Linked DNA regions of Homo sapiens: region 2 is linked to region 1. A link means that fine-mapping ties the variant in region 1 to the expression of a gene that starts in the linked region. Tissue or cell type: whole blood. Region 1 holds a variant in brackets; the other region holds the start of a gene. All regions are shown on one strand. Distances are from middle to middle.

The links. PIP is the estimated chance that this variant, and not a neighbour inherited with it, causes the effect.
Region 2: PELATON starts here. The variant in region 1 is fine-mapped to the expression of PELATON in whole blood (INTERVAL, PIP above 0.99). The same link has a PIP of 0.9 or more in blood mononuclear cells.

The regions. Positions count from the first base shown.
Region 1 is chr20:50,177,121-50,185,222 of GRCh38, forward strand. It overlaps CEBPB-AS1 (CEBPB antisense RNA 1), which reads right to left. Exons shown (of 7, transcript NR_125739.1): 7 at 7,483-8,102. Among named protein-coding and RNA genes, the nearest start is that of LINC01273, 8.6 kb to the left of the region's middle. RefSeq lists an enhancer at 2,050-2,549. The variant G/A (reference allele first, on the strand shown) is at 3,499.
Region 2 is chr20:50,262,605-50,270,706 of GRCh38, forward strand. It overlaps PELATON (plaque enriched lncRNA in atherosclerotic and inflammatory bowel macrophage regulation), which reads left to right and starts at 4,874. Exons shown (of 4, transcript NR_170992.1): 1 at 4,874-5,059. It overlaps LOC105372656 (a long non-coding RNA gene), which reads left to right. Exons shown (of 3, transcript XR_936835.3): 3 at 1,598-1,642.

The DNA.
Region 1 (8,102 bases):
GGCATGGTGGTGCGTGCCTGTGGTCCCAGCTACTTGGGAGGCAGAGGAGGGAAGGGCACCTGAGTCTGGGGGTGTTGAGGCTGCAGTGAGCTGTGATGGTGCCGACGTACTTGAGCCTGGGCTACAGAGATCTTATCTAAAGAAAAGCCTAAATGAATGTGTGGTGAGGAGCAGGCTTGAGTTATTTTCATGATGAGCTCCTCAGGATAGATTCTCAAAAGTGGCATTGGTGGGGCTCTACCTCTGTTTATTCATTAATCTGTTTTATTTTTATATTTATTTATTTATTTCAGTTATTTTTTTGAGATGGAGTTTCACTCTGTCACCCAGGCTGGAGTGCAGTGGCACGATCTCGGTTCACTGCAACATCCCTCTCCCAGGTTCAAGCAATTCTCCTACCTCAGCCTCACAAGTAACTGGGATTACAGGCGTGCGCCACCACATTCAGCTAATTTTTAGTAGAGACGCAGTTTCACCATGTTGGCCAGGCTGGTCTTGAACTCCTGACCTCAAGTGATCCACCCGCCTTGGCCTCCCAAAGTGCTGGGATTACAGGTGGCAGTCACCATGGCTGGCTTGTTTTATTTTTAACATTTAATTGGGTAAGCTGCAGATACCCCTCAAGATGTCAGTGTGCATGTCAAGATGTCAGTGTGCACGTCATTAACTAGAGTCAAATATTTGTTTCTCTGTCTGTAAAGCTTACATTTGGTGAACTGCACCTTTAGGTGTACTTTTGATTATTATTATTATTTTTTTGAGATGGAGTTTTGCTCTGTCACCAAGGCTGAGTCTAGTGTTGCGATCTCTGCTCACTGCAACCTCTGCCTCCAGGGTTCAAGTGATTCTTCTGCCTCAGCCTCCTGAGCAGTTGGGATTACAGGCGCCTGCCACTGCACCAGGCTAATTTTTGTATTTTTAGTAGAGATGGGGTTTCACCATGTTGGCCAGGCTGGTCTTGAGCTCCTGACCTCAAGTGATTCACCCGCCCCAGCCTCCCAAAGTGCTGGGATTACAGGGGTGAGCCACTGCGCCCAGCCACTTTTGATTACTTTTGACAAATGCATCCACCTGCACTGCCCAAACTCCCTCCAAGATGTTAAACATGCAGTGGGTTGAATTGTGTCCCCCAAGAAGATATGTTCAAGTCCTAACCCCTGGGACCTGTGAATGTGACCTTATTTGGAAATAGGGGCTTGCAGATGAACCCAACTTAAGATGAGATCATTCTGGATTGTGGGGGCTCTAAATCCAATGACTGGTGTTTATATAAGAGAAAGGAGAGGGAGATTTGGAGGTGAACACACAGAGGGAAGAAGGCACTGGAAGAAGGCCGTTGGAAGATTAAGGCAGAGATTGGGGTGAGGCAGCTAGAGCCAAGGAACATGGTGGATGGCGGGCAAGCACCATGGAAGAGGCAAGGAGGGATTCTTCCCCAGAGCCTCCAGAGGGAGCAGGACCCTGGTTTCAGGGGAGAATAAATTTCTGTTGTTTTGGGTTTGTGGTATCTTATCATGGCGGCCTTAGGAAACTCACACGAAACACACACCATCACCCCAGCGAGCACCCTTGTCCCCTCCTCAGTTGTGCTCTCCCCCAACTGGCAACCACCGTGCTGATATTTTCCTCATGGGTGAGTTCTGCCTGTTCTAGAGCTCTAAACAGATGGGATCACACAGGAAGTTCTTGGCATCTGGCATCTTTCACTCAAACAAGATTTCAGAGATTGTTGCAGCTATCAGTGCTGGCACGCCTATAATTAAAGTCCATTTACTTGAAGAGGAAGTAAATTTTGAATTTGAGGAGGGGAGTAGGCAGTAAGCTTTCTTTTTTTTTTTTTTTTTGAGACCGAGTTTCACTCTTTTTGCCCAGGCTGGAGTGCAATGGTGCGATCTCGGCTCACCGCAACCTCTGCCTCCCGGGTTCAAGCGATTCTCCTGCCTCAGCCTCCCAAGTAGCTGGGATTATAGGCATGCACCACCACACCGGGCTAATTTTTGTATTTTTAATATTTTTGTATTTTGTATTTTTAGTAGAGACGGGGGTTTCACCATGTTGGTCAGGCTGGTCTCGAACTCCTGACCTCAGGTGATCTGCCCGCCTGGGCCTCCCAAAATGCTGGGATTACAGGCGTGAGCCACCGCGCCTGGCCTGTAAGCTTTCTCTTTAAAGCTGGGCTTGAGGCCCCCTCTCCCGGGGGTCTCTGGCCCTCAGGAACCCCAGTCTGAAGCTGTTTCCCAGTTCAGAGGTTGCAGAGATCGGAGGCGGGGCTCCCGCGCCACCTTGTGGCCATTCTAGGCAGCGCAACCCATGATGCCTGTGGCGGGGCGTGGGGGTGGGGTGGGGTGGGTTGGGGAAGGTGGGTTGGGCAAATGTGTATTTTCCTGGTTTGGGCCCTCAAGTCACTGAGCACCTACTCAGCACCTGCATGATTCCACTGTATGTGTGTGTGGACAGAGATGACCAAGATTGCGCAGACCCTAGAGGGGTTCCCAGGAGAGGGAGACTACACAACACTAACTCCAGTAGGGTGGATGGAGTGAGGCCCAGAGGCCTGAAGTCCAGCTGGAGCCTGGAGGAGGGGAGAGTAACGGACTTGGGCATTCAGGGAACGTTTCCCTGGGCATTTCGACAGCTGGGGATGGAAAGGAAGACTGTTACAGGCAGGGGAACAGCACAACCAAGGTGTGGAAGCAGGACCGGGCAACATTCTGGACCCAACCAATCATAAGGTCATACGTGTCCATGGCAAACATTTTTTTTTTTTCTTTTTAGAGACAAGGTCTTGCTCCATCACCCAGGCTGGAGTGCAGTGACACAGTCATGGCTCACTGCAGCCTTGACCTCTCGGGCCCAAGAGATCCTCCTGCCTCAATCTCCTGAATGTCTGGGACTGCAGATGCGCACCACCATACCTGGCTAATTTTGGATTTTTTTGTATAGACGGGGGGGTCTCGCTATGTTGACCGGCTTGTCTTGAACTCCTGGCCTCAAGTGATCCTCCTGCTTTGGCCTCTCAAAGTGCTGGGATTATAGGCGTGAGCCACCACGCTAGGCCCCATGGTGAATTGAGTTTTTTTTTTTTTTGAGACAGGGTCTTGTTCTGTTGCCCAGGCTGGAGTGCAGTGGCTCAATCTTGGCTCACTGCAGCCTCTGCTCCCCTTCCTGGGCTCAAGTGATTCTCCTGCCTCAGCCTCCTGAGTAGCTGGGATTACAGGGTCGTGCCACTGCGCCTGGCTAATTTTTGTATTTTTAGTAGAGATAGGGTTTCACCATGTTGGCCAGGCCGGTCTTGAACTCCTGACCTGAAATGATCCACCCGCCTCGGCCTCCCAAAGTGCTGGGATTACAGGCGTGAGCCACCGCGCCTGGCTGGCTTAAGTCTTAAGCAGCAGCTTCCACTTTTGTGTTCTGGGGGAGGCCAGCAGCTGTGTAAGAAGTCTGTGCTGGTTGCAAAAAGTGCAAGGTTTAAAAAAAAAAAAAAAAAAAAAAAAGACT[G/A]TGCTGAGGAGACCACATGGAAAGGGCAAGAGAGGCCAGGAGGAGAGGCTACTTGAAGGGACAACTTGCAGCATGTGCAGAGGCCACATGGGGAGAAAGAAACTGCCAGAGGGAGCACTGAGGAATGAACTAAGGCAGCAGACACATGGTCCAGCCAGCCATCCGCCACTCGGGCCAGCCGTGAGGTGCCACACGTGGAGCACAGAAGCCACTGTGGACGCTTGGAGCAGAGATAAGCCGTCCCCTCATGCTCTGTCCTAATTCCTCACCTACAGGATCGTGAGCAAATATACTGGTGGTTATTTTAAGCCCTTAAAAAACAGAATTACTGGCCGGGCGTGGTAGCTCACACCTGTAATCCCAACACTTTGGGCGGCCGAGGTGGGTGGATCACTTGAGGTCAGGAGTTCAAGACTAGCCTGGCCTACATGGCAAAACCCTGTCTCTACTAAAAATACAAAAATTTTTTATTTTGTATTTTTAGGGCGTGGTGGCACACACCTGTAATCCAGCTATTTGGGAGGCTAAGGCATGAGAGCTGCTTGAACCTGGGAAGTGGAATTTGCAGTGAGCTGAGATCTGAGATCATGCCACTGCACTCCAGCCTGGGCAACAAAGTGAGACTCTGTTTTGAAAAAAAAAAAAAAAAAAGGCATTACTATATAATCCAGTAACCCCACCACTGGGTATATATCCCATGGAAATGAATCTAGTGTGTTGAAGAAATATCTGCGCTTGCACATATCCTATGGAAATGAATCTAGTATGTTGAAGAAATATCTGCGCTTGCACGGTTATTGCAGCGTTATTCACTAAGTTTTGAGGTGCAGTGTTACATGGTGGCAGCCAGAACCCCCGGCCCTGGGCTACTACTGTTGCTGGTTTCTTATGACCCTTCCAGCATGAGCCTCTGCATCCTCAAATACATGAAGCTGGGTGCGGTGGCGCACGTCTGCAGTCCCAGCTACTCAGGAGGCTGAGGTGGGAGGATCGCCAGACCCAGGAATTTGTGTGCTATGATCTCCCTGTGAACAGCCACTGCAGTCCAGCCTGGGTGATACAGTGAGACCCTGTTTCTAAACAGATAAACAAACCAAAAAGAATACGTGAGTACATTTCCACTCCTCCCCTCATTTATGTGGGGTTCGCACACCACACATCCGGCCTGCTCTTGGCTTTTATTTTTTTTCCAATTAATGATAGATCTTGGAGATTGTTCTAGATGTGTACTGTTCAATATAGTAGTCGCTAGTCCAGGAGGTGATTTAAATGTATTTTAAAAGATTAAATTTTTATGTATTTTTTAAAAGTAGAGCACTCCTCCTGCCTCAGCCTCCCAAGTAGCTGGGACTACAGGCACACACCACCATGACCGGCTAATTTTTTTTTTTTTTTTTTTAAGATGGAGTCTCACTCTGTTGCCCAGGCTGGAGTGCAGTGGCATGATCTCGGCTCACTGCAACCTCTGCTGCCCGGGTTCAAGTGATTCTCTTGCCTCAGCCTCCTGAGTAGCTGGGATTATAGGCACCTGCCACTGTGCCTGGCTAATTTTTGTGGGTTTTTTTTTTTAGTAGAGATGGGGTTTCACCATCTTGGCCAGGCTGGTCTTGAACTCCTGACCTCATGATCCACCCGCCTTGGCCTCCCAAAGTGCTGGGATTACAGGTGTGAGCCACTGCACCCAGCCTTAATTTAAATTTAAATACAATTCAATAAAATTAAAAATTCAGTTCCTCAAGTACACTAGCCACATTTCAGGAATTCAATAGACACACATGGCTGATAGCTGCCGTATGATACAACCCAGATAGAGAACATGTCCATCATTCTAGAAGGTTCTCTTGGACAGTGCTGGTCTAAGTCCTCTCCCATGGAGCTACCTCATTCTTCTTAGTGTTCTTTGGTAATGACAGCCACTGACGTTACCTCACAAGCTTTTGCTATTGCAAAGCATTTGCTGTTCTCCATTTTTCTTTAAGCAAATGTGAGTGTCTTGGTGGCATAAATGCCTTGCATTTCTGGGTCCAGTGACATTTCCCATTTTGTTTTTTTCCTTTTTTTATATTTTGTTTTATTATTTTTTAAATTATACTTTAAGTTTTAGGGTACATGTGCACAATGTGCAGGTTAGTTACATATGTATACATGTGCCATGTTGGTGTGCTGCACCCAGTAACTCGTCATTTAACATTAGGTATATCTCCAAATGCTATCCCTACCCCCTTCCCCCACCCCACAACAGGCCCCGGTGTGTGATGTTCCCCTTCCTGTGTCCATGTGTTCTCATTGTTCAATTTCCACCTATGAGTGAGAATATGCCGTGTTTGGTTTTTTTTGTCCTTGCGATAGTTTGCTGAGAATGATGGTTTCCAGCTTCATCCATGTCACTACAAAGGACATGAACTCTCATTTTTTATGGCTGCGACATTTCCCATTTTGATGGGCATGGCCAGATTAGAACTGGAGGTTACGCCACTTCGCACAAAGACTGAAGCTGTAAGAGTGCCTGTTTTTCCACACCATCAACACTGCGTGTCATTCACATTTTAAAAACGTTTTAGCTAATGGCAAAGGTTTTCAAGACAAACGTGACTTTACCAGGCCCCTGCCCTGCCTGTTGCCTCTCAAGTCACAATGCCAGTGGACATCTTTCTCTGTCCACAGGTGAAGATCCATCTTTTGTTTGTTTGTTAGAAATGAGAGGCCGGGCGTGGTGGCTCATGCCTGTAATCCCAGCACTTTGGGAGGCCGAGGCGGGTGGATCAGGAGGTCAGGAGATCGAGACCACGGTGAAACTCCGTCTCTACTAAAAATACAAAAAATTAGCTGGGCGCAGTGGCGGGCGCCTGTAGTCCCAGCTACTTGGGAGGCTGAGGCAGAATGGCGTGAACCAGGAAGGCGGAGCTTGCAGTGAGCCGAGATCGCGCCACTGCACTCCAGCCTGGGCGACAGAGCGAGACTCCGTCTCAAAAAAAAAAAAAAAAAAAAAAAAAAAAAGAGATCTTACTGTATTGCCCAGGCTGGTCTTGAACTCCTGGGCTCAAGGGATCCTCCTGCCTCGGCCTCCCAAAGTGCTGGGATTACAGGTGTGAACCACTGCGCCTGGCCCACGTTGGCCTTTTTTTTCAAATTGTAAAATACGCAGAACATAAAACTTACCATATTAACCATTTTAAGTGCACAGTTTGGTGCCATTAAGGACATTCACGCTGTTGGGTAATCGTCACCACCATCCATCTCCAGAACTCTTTCCATCTTCCCAAAGATGGAACTCTATATCCATTAAACAAGAACTTCCTCCTACCTCAGCTCCTGGCAACCACTGTTCTATTTTCTGTCTTTATGAATCTGACTACTCAAGGCACTTCATGTAAGTGGTATCATGCAGTATTTGTCCTTTTGTGACTGGCTTATTTCACTTAGCACAATATCCTTAAGGTTCATCCGTGTTGTAGCCTGTGTCAGAATCTCCTTACTTTTTAAGGCTAAATAACATTCTATTGTACAGACACATCACATTTTGTCCATTCGTCCATCGATGGACACGGGTGGCTTCCACCTCTTTTTTTTTTTTTTTTTTTTTTTTTAAGTCGGCGTCTTGCTCTGTCACCTAGGCTGGAGTGCAGTGGTGCGATCTCAGCTCACTGCAACCTCTACCTCCCAGGTTCAAGCGATTCTCCTGTCTCAGCCTCCCAAGTAGCAGGGATTACAGGCACCCGCCACCACACCCAGCTAATTGCTTCCACCTTTTGGCTATTGTGAAGAAGGCTGCTATGAACGTGAGTGTACAAATATCTCTTCAAGATCTTGCTTTCAATTCGTTTGGATACACACCCAGAAATAAAATTGCTGGGTCATTTGGTAATTCTATTTTTAATTTTTTGAGGAACAGCCATACCATTTCCCACAGTAGCTACACAAGCATTCCAGTTTCTACACATCCTTCCCAACGCAGCAGCCAGCCTAATGGGCGTAAGGTGGTATCTCATTGTGTTTTATTCCTTTTATTTTTAGTTGACACATAATTGTACATGTTCATGGGTTACAAAATGATATTTCAATACATGTATACAACGTGTAATAATCAAATCTGGGTAATTAGGATATCCATTACCTCAAGCGTTTATCATTTCTTTGTGTCGGGAACATTCAAAATCCTCTCTTCTCATTGCGTTTTGTTTGTTTTTTAGATGGAGTCTCACTCAGTTGCCCAGGCTGGGGTGCAGTGGCGTGATCTTGGCTTGCTGCAACCTCCACCTCCCAGGTTCAAGTGATTCTCCTGCCTCAGCCTCCCAAGTAGCTGGGACTATACGCACGTACCATCACGCCCAGCTAATTTTTGTATTTTTAGTAGAGACGGGGTTTCACCGTGTCGGCCAGGCTGGTCTCCAACTCTTGACCTCAGGTGATCCACCAAAGTGTTGCGCCTCATTGCAGTTTTGGTTTGTATTTCCTTAATGGTTAGTGATGTTGAGTATCTTATCATGTGATTATTAGCCATTCACAGTTTTCTCTGGAGAAATGTTTATTCAAGTCCTTTGCCCATTTTTAATTGAGTTGTTTTTATTGCTGTTGAGTTGTAACAGTTCTTTATGTATTCTGGA
Region 2 (8,102 bases), 85 kb after region 1:
TCTAACTTCTTTCAATTAGCCTAATGTTTTTGAGGTTCTTCCACGTTGTGGCATGCATCAGTACTTCATTTTTTTTTAATTTTTAATTTTAATTTTTTTGAGATGGAGTCTCACTCTGTCGCCCAGGCTGGAGTGCAGTGGGATGATCTCAGCTCACTGCAACCTCCATCTCCCGGGTTCAAGTGATTCTCCTGCCTCAGCCTCCCGAGTAGCTGGGATTACAGGCATGTGCCACCACGTCTAGCTAATTTTTGTATTTTTAGTAGAGACGGGGTTTCACCATGTTGGCCAGGCTGGTCTCGAACTCCTGACCTCGGGTGATCACCTGCCCTGACCTCCCAAAGTACTGGGATTACGGGCGTGAGCCACTGCGCCCCACCAGTACTTCATTTTTAAAAAATGATCAAATACTGTTGTATGGCTAGATCACATTTTGCATATCTATTCATCGACTGATGGACAGTTGGGTTGTTTCCACCTTTTGGCTACTGTGACTAGTGCTGCTATGGTAATTGGTATACAAGGGCTTGTTTCGTGTGTGTGTGTGTGTGTGTGTGTGTGTATGTGTGTGTATATATATATATATTTTTTTTTTTTTTTTTTTGAGAGACTGTCTCGCTCTGTCACCCAGGCTGGAGTGCAGTGGCATGATCTCGGCTCACTGCAACCTCTGCCTCCCGGGTTCAAGCGATTCCTGTGCCTCAGCCTCCTGAATAGCTGGGATTACAGACGTGCGACACCATGCCCAGCTAATTTTTGTATTTTTGGTAGAGGACTGGGTTTCACCATGTTGGCCAGGCTGGTCTCAAGCTTCTGGCCACAAGTGATCCGCCCACCTCAGCCTCCCAAAATGCTGGGATTACAGGTATGGGCCACCGCTCCTGGCCTTGTGTGGGTATTCTTGAGTGAAAAATACAAGATGCAGAAAAGGATGCCCAATGTGATTCTGATTTGTAAAAGGAATGACAGATAAAGAAACCCTTTGTCCGGGCAGACAGTCTGTATGGGATTTTCATTCTTACAGAAAAATAGGTAAGAATCCATTCTCAATGGTCACCAAGGGAAAAAAAGAAGGCTTTTGCAGAAAAGTAAAAATGAAAAACCACAACAGTGCACACACAGTGGCTCCATGCGGGCATGTGAGACACACTAGACTGAGTGATTGTATGTGCAGATGTGAAAAAAACAGCAAACAACAAAATCAGCCCCGAAACTAGTCTCTCTAGGAGGGGCTGGGCAGGAGCCTGGTCAGATGGAGAAACTGAAGTTGGGAAGAGGGGAGGGAACTCCTAGGAGAGAGTGATCTCCAAAAACTGCTCCCCACCCCTCCTTTTTAACTCCCTCCCCAAATACCAGGTCCCATTGGAGCCAAATTTCCTCAGTGTTTTGGAATCTCAGACCCGCAGGCAGGAGACAGATTCTTCCCCATGGAGGATGCGGTTGGGTTTTTAAGCTCCTGTAGATTGAGCACTTACTACCTGCTAAGTGTTTCACCTACCTTATGGCCTGAGTCCTCTCCCAGCCCCTGAGGAAAAGCTATTGTTCCCTTATTTATTTATTGTTATTGTTACTTTTTATTTATTTACTTATTTTTTAGATGGAGTCCCGCTCTGTTGCCCATGCTGGAGTGCAGTGTCGCGATCTGGGTTCGCTGCAACCTCCGCCTCCCAGGTTCAAGTGATTCTCCTGCCTCAGCCTCCTGAGTAGCTACGATTACAGGTGCCCACCACCACGCCTGGCTAATTTTGTCTTTTTAGCAGAGACAGCGTTTCACCATGTTGGTCAGGCTGGTCTCAAACTCCTGACCTCAAGTGATCTTCCCACCTCGGCCTCCCAAAGTGCTGGGATTACAGGCGTGAGCTGCCGTGCTCAGCTGCTCCCCCATTTTTTTCGTTCAGGAAAGCAAAGTTCAGAGAGGAGTAGGTTTCTGTGCAGGGCGTGTGGCAGAGCTGGACTTGAACTCAGGGCGGAATCCTTAGCCATGGTGCCCCCTGCCACATGGTTCGGCTTTCCTTCATCTCTGCTCCCCAAGATGCCTGGCTCCAGCTGAAGATCCAGGGTTCCCAGGTTCCTCTTCTGGGGACAGGTCCTCCTTCAGCCTGACCTGAGCTCTGCCACTTCCACCGGCATGAACTGTAGCAACAATTTGGCTACCCGGGCCTCATTCTCTCCATCTGGAAAATGGGCACAGCATGTGCCTTTCTGCACAGTGAGGTCATGAAGGATTGATGAGGCAACACGCAAGGAGCGTAAGCCTAGGGCCTGGCACCCAGGAGGCCACCCCAGTGGGCCCTGCTGGGTTTCCGATTTCCCCTGTGACACCTCCTGGGGGCCGGATCCCCAGCGGGAGGAGGGATGAGGCCTGGGGGGCCTGGCTCTGGCACAATGCAGAGCATTGAGCTCATGCCAGCCTTGGCTTTGGGTTTGGACAAATACAGTAATCTGGGCAGGACTCACACAAAGACCTGGGGGCCAGGTCAGGCGAGGGGCGTCAGGTTACCCCTGTGGGCTGCAGCCACACAGGCGGCTTGGGGGGTGTATTTTTTTTCCCTAAAGATTATCATTAAATGAGCCCTCACCGAGGCCTCAGCAGGCAGGTTTCATTACAGGAAAAACTGAGGTATAGGGGTTTGCAGGCCTAACGGGACACGCTGTCACTGTGATAGGAACAGCATTAGCAATAATAACAGCTGTCCTTCCGGACTGGTTCCCAAGGGCTAGGCCCTAGGTGAATAATAAGCCTTTTCTCGATCCTTTCTGCAGCCCGAGAGGAAAGCCCCATGCTATCCCCATTTCATAGATGGGAAAACTGAGGCTTGAGGACACTTTGCGGCCTCCAAGGGCTGTTCTCTTCATTCCTCCAGCAGAGTGGATATGAGACGGTGCAGGGTCTGGAATGTCTGGGCAGAAGGAAGAGCTGGAGCAAAGGCCTGGAGGCTGGAGAGCGCTGTCGGGGGGCAAGTGGGGCAGTGTCCCACTGCGGGGTTTCATCTCAGCTCTGCCATGTCTTGGCTACGTGACCTCTGACACCCTACTGGGCCTCTTTGATCCCAGACTCACCTGTAGAATGGGTGTGTGAGAAGAAAACCTTCTGGAGCGGGGTGTTGAGGAGAGAACAGTGCCTGACACATCATAATAATAATGCTGAATAGATGTTATTTTCATTCCTAACCACTTCCTCCAGGAAGCCCATCCTGACCTCTAGCTCCCAAAGTCACCTGGACTTCCTCCATCACAGACCTTGCCACAGTGTGAGAAACTGCCTCATCCACACACCAGCTTCTCACCTCCACCCAGACCCTCTGATTGGGACTCCCCTGAAGACTGTGTCCCCAGAGCCCAGAAAGAGTCCAGCACAGAGCAGCTGAGGGGGCAGGTGCTGGTGAACAGTGTCAATGAGCCCCTGCTACTCACCAAGCCCTTCACACACGGGTCCTTCATTTAATGTCTTTCTTCTCCTAGATAGAACCTTGGCTTTGCCAAGACCGGTATAGTTGCTGCTCAAGAAATATGTGAGGAAATTGTTGAGATGAACCAGCACTCAGGGGAAGGGAGGCTTTCTGAGGCTGGGGCCTTAGCAGGTGGAGCTCCTGGGATAATAATAATAAGAAAGATGCCTGGACGCGGTGACTCACACCTGGAATCCCAGCAATTTGGGAGGCTAAGGCAGGCAGATCACTTCAGGCCAGGAGTTCAAGACCAGCCTGGTCAACATGGTGAAACCTGGTCTCTACTAAAAATACAAAAAATTAGCTGGGCCTGGTGGTGTGAGCCTATAGTCCTAGCTTCTCGGGAGGCTGAGGCTGGAGGGTCAATGATTGAACCTGGGAGGTGGAGCTTGTAGTGAGCCGAGATCGCGCCACTGCCACTGCACTCCAGGCTGGGCAACACAGTGAGACTCTGCCTCCAAAAAGAAAGACAACAATAATCATTAGTCTTTACTCTGCTCCAGGCACCAGGCTGAGTCTTCTCAGTTCATCTCCCCAGCAGATTAGTTCTATTATTGTTTCCATTTCACAGATGGGAAAATCAAGGCACAGGGAGGGGAGGTGGCTTACTCCAGGTCACACAGTTAGTGAGAGGCAGAGGCAGGATCAAAGCCAAGCCTGTTTGACTGAGGAGCCCGCCCCGAGACCTTAACCACACAACCCCTCCCTAGAAGGAAGGTGCCACTACTGGACACATTTTGGAGATGGAAACCAAGGCTAAGAGAGTCAGGATGGCCTGCCCATGTCTGGACACAGAAACTGAGGTTAAGCAGGAGATGCCCGAGGCGGGGTCCCTGTCTCCTAGGCCAGCACCCTGAAGAAGGGGTGGGAGACAACCCCCCACCCCCCAAGCTGTCCCCTGCTTGTTGGAGTTTCTGGTCAATACCCTGGCCTCTGTTACCCAGCCCAGCACCCAAGACGCTGCCTCTTCCGCCTGCCTGGAGTCTCGGGTGCCTTCACAATCGGATTCTCTGTCTCTGCAGCTGCTTTCCATTTGAGCCCTTTGTGCTGAAAATAAAAAAAATGAAAAGAAAACTTGGCACCACCCCTCTGCTTTGCTTCCTGGGGAGGAAGGAGGATCCCAGCTACTTCTTTCCCTCATTCTGGGGCCCAGAGATACCCACAGCCTGCCCGAGGTCACACAGCAGGGTTGGAGCCGGGACCCTGGCCTTAGACTCCCCTTCCAGTGCTCTACCCACTCTGGCCACTGCCTCTGATGTTCCTGGCTCTTCCTCTAGGCCCGTGAGGAGCAGAGAAATTAGGATGAATGTTCCCGAGCCCTACCACATGCTGGGCACTCTGCCATCCTGGGCTCACGAAACCCTCATGACAGCCCTGTGAGGTCCCGTCATCCCATTTAACCAACAAGGAAGCTGAGGCTCAGAGAGGGGAAGCGCCCAAGGTCACACAGCTGGGATGTGGCAGAGCTGGGGTTCCAGCTCCTGTTCCCATTGCTGGACAGCTGCCACATCTGGCACCCAATTTAGGACCCCGCGGGGAGGCCCAAGCCCCGGGGGTGGCGGGGGATCCTAGAGGAAAGTGGCAAGGCCAGGACCCTGGAGCAGAGCCAGGTAGGAACAATGGGTTCTCAGAGACCAAGGTGGCAGGGCGGGGCGGCTGCTGAGCAGGGGCGGCAGGGCGAGGTGGCGGGCGGGGCCCAGGAGACTTCATGCTCCCGCCTCCTACTCCAGCTCCCTGTTTGGGATCTGGGGACGCTCCAAGCACCTCAGCTTCTCAACCTGGACAGACCCACGGCTCCAGCAGGAGGCAGGGCCAGCCCTGTGTATAACCATAAATATAATGGGCAATAATCAGATTTCACGCTTACCGAGCCCTACTACAGGCCAGACACTGGGTCAAGGGTCCTTCCTGGGTCATCACAATCAGCCTAGGAGGTGCAATTAGGATTAGTGGCTTTTTACAGATGCGGAAACAGAGGTCCAGGGAGCTACTCAGCACCTGCTGTGCCAGGACAAAGAACTTTGGGAAGTGGGGCCCTCAGAGGGTGGGTACCCTGTTCCCAGAGGCAGGAAAGTTGAGGTGGACTGGACTCAGTGGGGCTCAGTGGGACACCGTGGGGAGTCAGTGCTCTCTGGGGGCGAGATGAATTAGAGGGAGCCCTTTTGGTTTTTTAGAATCTGAACATGGGGCGGGGGAAGCAGAGATGTGGGGAGCAGATGAAGCCTCCCTGGCACTGCTGGGAGGATTAAAGGACTTGATGGACACCCAGGGCTTGGAAATGTACCTGGTAGAGAGTAGGTGCTCAGGGAACAACTCCTGTTTGCAGAAACAGCAACTCACACTTAGGGAGCCTGCTGTGCATCTGAACCCCGTGCTTGGGTGTTTCTGACCCCCTTCCAGCTCTCATCCCTCCTCTCTCCATTTTCTCCCCTGTCTCAGGTTCATTCCTATGTTTCCTCTTGCCCCAATTAGGCCATCTTCTATGACTGCAACAGTAAAAATATTAATTAAATCTTATAACATGAAGTCTAACGTGGGGCCATTCCAGTGTTCCAGGGCAGGCTCCCTGCGCTCTAGGTAGGCATCTCTTCACTTCTCTTTCTTCATGGGCCCCAGTGCCTGCTGTGGCTCAAGACATCACGTCCCACATGATCACATCCTAACTAGGAAGAGATGAACAGAAAAGGGGACTTTCTCCTCCAGGATCTCACTTTTTTTTTTTTTTTTTTTTTTGAGACAGAGTCTTGCTCTGTTGCCCAGGCTGGAGTGCAATGGCACGATCTCGGCTTACTGCAACCTCCGCCTCCTGGGTTCAAGCGATTCTCCTACCTCAGCCTCCCACATAGCTGGGATTACAGGCGTGGGCCACCACTCCCAGCTAATTTTTTGTATTTTTAGTAGAGATGAATTTTCACCATGTTGGCCAGGCTGGTCTCAAACTCCTGACTTCAGGTGATCCACCCACCTCAGCCTCCCAAAAGTGCTAGGATTACAGGCGTGAGCCACCGTGCCCAGCCAACAATTTTTCTTACATGTCCCAGTGGATGTCCCCTGGTGTCTCATGGAATGATGGGCTCACATGTCCACATTTGAACCAGAAAGGAATTCCCGTGGCTGACTCAGGCCAATTAGGGTTCAGCCTGTCTGGCTGCTCCAAAGAGATGTGGGCTCCGAAGGTGATGGGGGCACGGCTGGGCTGGCCACCAGCTGGAGTCTCACTGACGGCCTAAGTGGCACAGTGGGCCTGGGTTTGCTCGGCCTTCTCTGGCTGGTCCTCTTGGCAGCGTCTGCCCCCTGGGTAACTGCCCCCTCCTTGAGCACAGTCTTCCCCAGCCTCTTGATGGCGGCTTGCTGGTCTCGCTGGTTCTCCTCTTACTTCCCTGCCCGTTCCTCCTTGGGCCTTGAAAACGACCCCTCTCCTGCCTTCATCTGACCCTTGCCCCGTGAGCTCAGCTGTGCGGGGTCCCTCGTGCCTTTATGCGGGCTCTGTCAGTCTGTCCATGGGTGTCCCAGGGGCGCACCCCACTGGGAGACATGGATGTCTTTCCCAGCTGAGAAGACAGCACTGCCACCCACCCAGTGGGCCAGGCCTCAGACCCCAGAGTTGTCCTTAACTCCTCTCTCTCTAACCCCAACATTCAATCCTCAGCAAATTCCATCGGCTCTGCCTGTGGACTGAATCCAGAACTCGACAAGTCTTCCCTCCTCTGTCTGGTCATTGCTCGCCTGCCTGGGCAGAATCTCCGCCCTGGACTCCCCACCCACCCCACACAGCCCTCCACACTCAGCCAGAGGGCTCCTGTTGGAACCCAAGTCAGGTCACACCATTGCCTCACTCCAAACCCTACTCCTACCTCCCTCAGAGAGAAAGACAGTCCCTGCTCTGGTCCCAAGGACAGCCCTGCATGGCCTTCCCCCTCCCCACCTCCCCTCCCCTCTTCCCTGCCCGCAGTGACCTCCCTCCTCCTGCTAGAACACATAGAGCTTTGCCCCACCTCTCCTGGGTGCTCTTTTTCTGGATCTTTCCATGATCAGCCCCATCCCCTCACTCGGGCCTGTGCACCTCAGAGAGGCCTCCCAGACCATCCCTGAAAGTAGCCCTGCCCACCCCTACCACACCTGCCAAAGGTCAGCTTCGGCAAGTGGGGACTGTGTCTTATTCAGCATGGGGCCAGCACAGGGCAGTGCGCAGAACGCAGCAGCTGGCGCCGGGCTCCGTGGGTCCTCCCACAGATGCAGTCCATAGGGATGGTGTCTGGGTCCCAAGGTGACCCCTGGGCTGAGGTCACCACCTTTCCTCTTCCAGGATCACTGCCTGGATGACGGTGGGTGTCCCAGTGGTGGGGAGAGCAGCTCCGAGCCTCCATCATGCCCAGAGCAATGGGCACTGGAGCCTGGAACCTTCTTTCCGTATCACAGAACCTCCAGGAGTCTGGAAGGAGACAGTTGCAAGGAATGGAATTTAGGAACTTTTGGTCCATGCTCGGTGTTCCCTTTGGGGGTATCTTGTCCGATGGTTATTGTTTTTGTTTCCCCTTTTCCTGAGCTGTGGTGCCTATTGTTCAAACAGAGGACCCCAAGCGATGGCCTGCCTCACTCAGGCGCAAGCACCCGAGCTGTCTGGCAAGGTGGCAATCCACCACGGCCAACTTC